Linked DNA regions of Homo sapiens: region 1 is linked to region 2. Evidence: fine-mapped expression QTL. A gene starts in region 2. The other region holds a variant in brackets. All regions are shown on one strand. Distances are between the middles of the regions.

Region 1 (2,906 bases), 69 kb after region 2:
CTCTGTGGGGCAGTGTCGTCCTTCCCTGGGCCATGAGCATATGTGACTAATTACCTGCTGCCCATCTCATCTGTCTAGGCTTGGATGTTGTACATTCAACCATCCTCTCAACTCTAGGGCGGAATCCCTCCCTCACCAGTGGGGTGAAGTGGAGGCAAACTAAATCAAACTAAATAAGACCCCATCATACCATGTTGTATTGCACTCTGCTTCTTTTTTTTTTTTTTTTTTTTTTTTTTTTTTGAGACAGGGTCTCACTTTGTTACCCAGGCTGGAGTGCAGTGGCACAATCTTGGCTCATTCCAACCTCCACCTCCTGGGTCCAAGCGATTCTTGTGCCTCAGCCTCCCGAGTAGCTGGAACTACAGGTGCTTGCCACCACACCTGGCTAATTTTTGTGGGTTTTTTTTTTTTTTTTTTGTATTTTTAGTAGAGACGGGGTTTCGCCATGTTGGCCAGGCTGGTCTTGAACTCCTGACCTCAAGTGATCTGCCCACCTTGGCCTCCCAATGTGCTGGGATTACAGGCGTGAGCCACCACACCTGGCCTCATCCTGCTTCTTTACACACTTACATTTCCTGCATAACTGAAAAAACTTGACCTTGTAACACCTCTTTTCAGGGGAATGACATATAAAATTATTCATAATGACAGACTATGAAATATTTTACCAATATTTTCCTTTAAGAAAGATTAGGGAAGTAGTGTTTAGGATAGATTCTACATGGAACAAATTAGAAGTAGAAAGACCAGTCAAGAAGTATCTGAACAGAATGATAGCCGAGTGGTGTGCAGTGGATACTGTGATATGCTGCCCAGAAAGGACAGTGAAGGACATCAGGCCCCAGCTGCTAGAAGTGCTGCTGCAGTCAGCCTGTAGCTCTTAGCCCTCTCAGAAAGTGACTGAGCTGCAGAGAGCTGCCTCACCCAAGGACATGCCCTATCTTTGTCCTTTTGGGCTGCTATCCTACCAGAGACTAAGTAGTTCAAAAACAACAGAAATGTATTTCTCACAATTCTAGAGGCTGGGAAGGCCAAAGTCAAGGCACCAGCAAATTTGATGCCTGGTGAGGGTTGGCTTCCTAACTGATAGAGAATGTCTTCTTACTGTATCCTCATGTGGTGGAAGGGATAAGGGAGGGACCTCTCTGGGGTGTCTTCTATAAGGGCACTAATCCCATCCCGAGGGCTCCATCCTTGTGACCTAATCACCTCCCAAAGGCCCCACATCCCAATACCATCACCTTGGGGGTTAGCATTTTAACATACGAGTTTTGGAGGGACACAAATATTCAGACCATAGCACACTC[A/G]TGCCTGGGGAAGCTCATATCGAGTGACCAATGGATGGTGGAGCATAAGGGCTTGGCCAGCTCAGCCATGCTTGGCATGTTTCTAAAAGTCCACCTAACTCCAGAGCTCTTGGTGAGGTTTGCTGAGACTGTCAGCCTTGGGTTGTAGCTCAACGTCACTGCTCTGCCCACTCCTGCTTCTGTCCCCTACCTTCCACAGGTGTGGTCCCTCCCACAGGCACGCCTTCATGAAATGCCTCTTTAGAGTCTGGTTTCTGGGGATACAACCTGTGATGCTTAAAAAATTAAGAGGCCGGGCACAGTGGGTCATGCCTATAATCCTAGCACTTTGGGAGGCCAAAGCAGGAGGATTGCTTGAGCTCAGTAGTTGAAGACCAGCCTGGGCAACATAGTGAGACCATGTCTCTACAAAAAATTTTAATAAAAAAGAAAGAAAAAAAATTAGAGATGAGAAATGAGGGGAGGAGAGGGAAATTGAGAAATAAGCTTAGATAATTTTCACCCTAAGGGTAAATCTCCCAAATAATGTTTCCCCATCTTCTCAGAGAGCCCACAGTCTGAACGAGGAGAAAGCTGTTCAATGAAAAATCAATAAGTAGTCAGGTGAATCCTCCAGGAATCTGCACAGAGTGGCAGTGCCACACCTTTTACATAAACCAACCTCCTCACTCTCCCCTCCTCAGCAGCTCCCAGGCCTGAGGACGGGCAGCGTCACTTTCTCCCAAGAACGATGGAGAATCATTTCTCACCAGTAAGAATGTTGGCCTCACATTAAATTCGTGATGTTTAATGGGCTTATTTATGTATTTATTTATTTTTGAAATGGAGTTTCGCTCTTGTTGCCCAGGCTGGAGTACAGTGGCACGATCTTGGCTCATTGCAACCTCTGCCTCCTGGGTTCAAGAGATTCTCCTGTCTTAGCCTCCGGAGTAGCTGGGATTACAGGCACACGCCACCATGCCAAGCTAATTTTTTGTATTTTTAGTAGAGATGGGGGTTTCACCATGTTGGCCAGGGTGGTCTCAAACTCCTGACCTCAGGTGATCCACCCACCTCAGCCTCCCAAAGTGCTGGGATTACAGGCGTGAGCCACCGCGCCCAGCCAGTTTATTCATTTATACTTCAATCAGGATTAAGTACATCATGAGAATAAAACAATCCAGATGGTTCTGAGACTGAATCTGAGCTCCTGGGTAACACAGCAGGGTGGATCTGGACTAGACTTCCTGCCCTGGATCAGCAAGATTGGTCTCATAGGTGTGCACTGAAGGCAGCCCGAGAAGGTGTGATTTGATGGGCACCTAGAAGACCCATCTATCCCCAAAAGACATGACTCAGTGAGGCTCTAGACCCTTTCTGCCACAGCAGCTTCATGTGGGCTTTGTAGATCAGCACAGCTCTTAGACCCAGCTGTGCACGGCGCCTGACTTGGGCCATATATATTAGAGAAGGGGTCAACAAACTACAGACTTTGGGCCAAATCTAACCTCCCCATCCAGACCTGTTTCTGTATAGCCTATGTAAAAAATGTTTTTTACATTTTAAAAATCTTTTGTAAATTTTTAAATTTGTAATTGTTGTGGGTACATAGTAGGT
Region 2 (2,906 bases):
CCAACTGTCCTACAGAAGGAAGCGTACCTATCTGGCACACTATCTCAGAGAACAATAGAGTTACAACAGAAGAGTGTTCAGAGGACAGTAACACATTGCTGACTATAAATCACAGGAACAAGAGAATGCCTGTTCATCTACCTGGATGCGTGCTCTACAAACCACAGGAAATTCAACGGTAATGCTGGGGAATAAACACTGTTCCGGCTGCTTATTTTACCGAACAGGACACGGACCCGGGCGCCACCCTTCTAAAACTAGATGCGTATTCCTTATACGGAGGTTCCATCAAATACCACGTTGAGCAACAGTTTGCTCTTCGTGGCAAACCCCATCTTAGAGGAATCAACTATTTTCTTTCATTTACCCAGCTATGTAAACAAAACCTGCAAGTGCGGTAATAAAAGAAAAAAACACCTCAAATCTAGAAATATGTAATGTAAATAACTCCTCTTAAGTTTCTGCCAGGATTCGTTTGCTGTAAAATCCTGGAAGCAACGGGCCTAGAACTTGAGCAATCAATGGGACCGGGCTGACATCGGCTGTTGTCTTGAAACTCAACAGAGCCAGAGTTCTGTGTGAATATCCACCAGCTGCTACCAGCATAAGGCCTGACTAACCAGAGCAACGCAGGTGAACCTCCACAAAGGAACAACCCAGGACAGCAGCAGGCACCGGGGACTCGGATGCAGAACTGGTCAGCTCCCGGCGCCACGCTCTCACGGCCCAAGATTCCCTACCCTCTGCGGACTCATCGCGGCACCGCAAGGGCTATTATTTTCCTAAAACTCGGAGGAAGTGTTTGTAGTGTTGCCTAGGCAGACAAGTTTGTAGAAGCTCTTTAAAGGGAAACAATAACAACAACAAATTCTGCAATATGTTTTCCCGCTTCCAACCTCTCAACCCCCACCCCCGCCTACTTTTAAAAGAACCAACGAAATGGCTCAAGGGAGGTCAGGACAAACGGATTTGGCTTGCAATGACACCATTTTTATCAGAACCCAGCCTTCGGGGAACGTAGGGGAGGGAGGTGGAGGAGACAAGCCCCTGCAGCATGAACTCTGGGTCCCAGCGGTCCCCAAGATATGGGGGGTGGGGGAGGGCAGCCGCTTCCTTGACTCTCAGGACCGCAAAGCTTCCCCATCCCCCGACGCCTGGGAGTCACCAACCCGGGCCTGTCTGCGTGTCCCCCCTCCCGGGGTCCCAGGCTCGAACAGGCGCCCCGCGAGACAGCCATCAGGAGAGGGCGGGCACCAGGAGCGTCCCTGGCTCCCTAAGGCCCTGTTGGGAGAGACGGGTCGGGCCTCAGAGGAGTCCAGTCTAGGGGTCCCGCTGGGGGTATTGGGGGCGAGAGGGCGCCTAGCGGGCTGGCCATCAAGGAAGGAGGGCTGAGGGCGGGGGCCGCGGGGATGCAGACCGTCCAGCGCCAGCATGGAGGGGAAGTCCTTGCAGTTGGAGACGCCCGTGGAGTCGGTAACGCACGCCTTCCACAGGTTGGCCCAATAGGTGGCGGTTGTGATGACCGTGCCGTCGATGGTAGACACCTTCCAGTAGTCGGTGGGCAGCGTGGAGGACACCAGTACCCAGCCTGAGATGGAGACCATGAAGGCGATGATCTCCGAAGCCGTGCTAGCCATGCCGCCGGCTGCAGCCGCGCTCGCTCTCCGGCTCCCACTCTGCGCCGCGACCCCCGCACTCCCAACCCCGGGGCTCCGCCTCCCGCCTCCGCCTCCGCCCACCGTCCCCGCCCACCACCCCGCCCAGCGGACCCGGCGCCAGGGGGCGCACGCGACCCCTCACACCCATGCCCTGTCCCTTGAGGGGCCTCAGAGGGCTCGCGGTCGCCCCCCGGGTTCTCCATCTGCAGCTGGCCCGCGCCCGCGTGCGGGAGGAAGGCCGGCCTGCGCTCCCCTGAGCCAAAGGGCCGCGGAGAAGGGCTCGCTTGTTGGAGCGGCTCAGGTTCAGACTGGCAACCGGGTGTGGACAACCTGCTGCGCCCCCACCTCACCACCCCCACCCAGCCCTACCCAAGGCAAATAGCTTGGCTTCCTGACTACCTTGTAGAAGCAGAGCAGGAAAAGCCTTTTGCATGCCCTGAAAGGACACGGTTTGGTAACTCAGCCCTCGGTTTGCTGAACTCTAAAGGTTTGCGTGCCACGCTTGTTTGGGTGACTCTGTTTGACTTGTCAAGGAGGGATCATTGCAGATTCTGGGCTGGAAACCGGCCTTGCCCTCAAAACTCTGCAGTTCTTTTTGGCCTGGTGCTATGCGGAAAGTCATGGCAAAACGGTGCGTGGCACAGGCCTAAAGTCAAGATAGCAGCAGATGGGGCATCCTGACGATCTTGATCTTGCTGGTGTACTCATACTAATGCACTACGCAGAGGGCATTTGTTCAACACATTTTCCCTGTAGGTCCCTTCCAGCTTCCAGGTCTAGAGGCTATTCTATGAAAGGATGCTGTTATCCCAGTCAAAACTGCTATCTTGTCTTTTATTTTTTTTTAAACCACCTCCATCTCTCACGCCTAATTGAAATATAAACTCATTCATTCCTTCATCCCTTCATTGCTGTCTCAAGGTAAACATAAAGATCAAGGTGTACTTCTGGCTCCTGAGGCCACAAATCTGGGCATAAATGAGAGAACAAGGACACGGGTTATTATTTGTCCACTTAAAGGTTCTTGCAGTTTTGTTATGAGCTTCCAGGTTTCACTTGTTGCCAAAAGTAAGGAAAGGTCTAAAACCTATCAATCAGTCTGCTGTGATAAATCTCGTGCTAACCCTCTGTGTCACTATCTTTAGGCAGAAACACTCTGGTTCAATGTGAAGAATTTCTTAATTTCCCTTTGTCACTTTTTTTTTTTAACCAAATGGGTGCCCAGTGAAATTAGAGGCGACAAGGTGA

Alleles and levels. Positions count from the first base shown, and alleles are read on the strand shown. Sizes are in standard deviations (SD) of each study's normalised expression.
As copies of A replace G in region 1, the expression in tibial artery of the gene that starts at base 1,671 in region 2 goes up (moderate effect, 0.52 SD a copy in GTEx).

Evidence for each region. PIP is the estimated chance that this variant, and not a neighbour inherited with it, causes the effect.
Region 1: its variant is fine-mapped to the expression of CLDN10 in tibial artery (GTEx, PIP 0.99).

Annotation. Positions count from the first base shown.
Region 1 is chr13:95,482,203-95,485,108 of GRCh38, reverse strand. The region is part of intron 3 of CLDN10-AS1 (CLDN10 antisense RNA 1); the gene reads left to right. It also overlaps a transcript of CLDN10 not described here. Among named protein-coding and RNA genes, the nearest start is that of CLDN10-AS1, 50 kb to the left of the region's middle. The variant A/G (reference allele first, on the strand shown) is at 1,311.
Region 2 is chr13:95,551,485-95,554,390 of GRCh38, reverse strand. It overlaps CLDN10 (claudin 10), which reads right to left and starts at 1,671. Exons shown (of 5, transcript NM_006984.5): 1 at 1,418-1,671. The coding sequence starts at 1,637.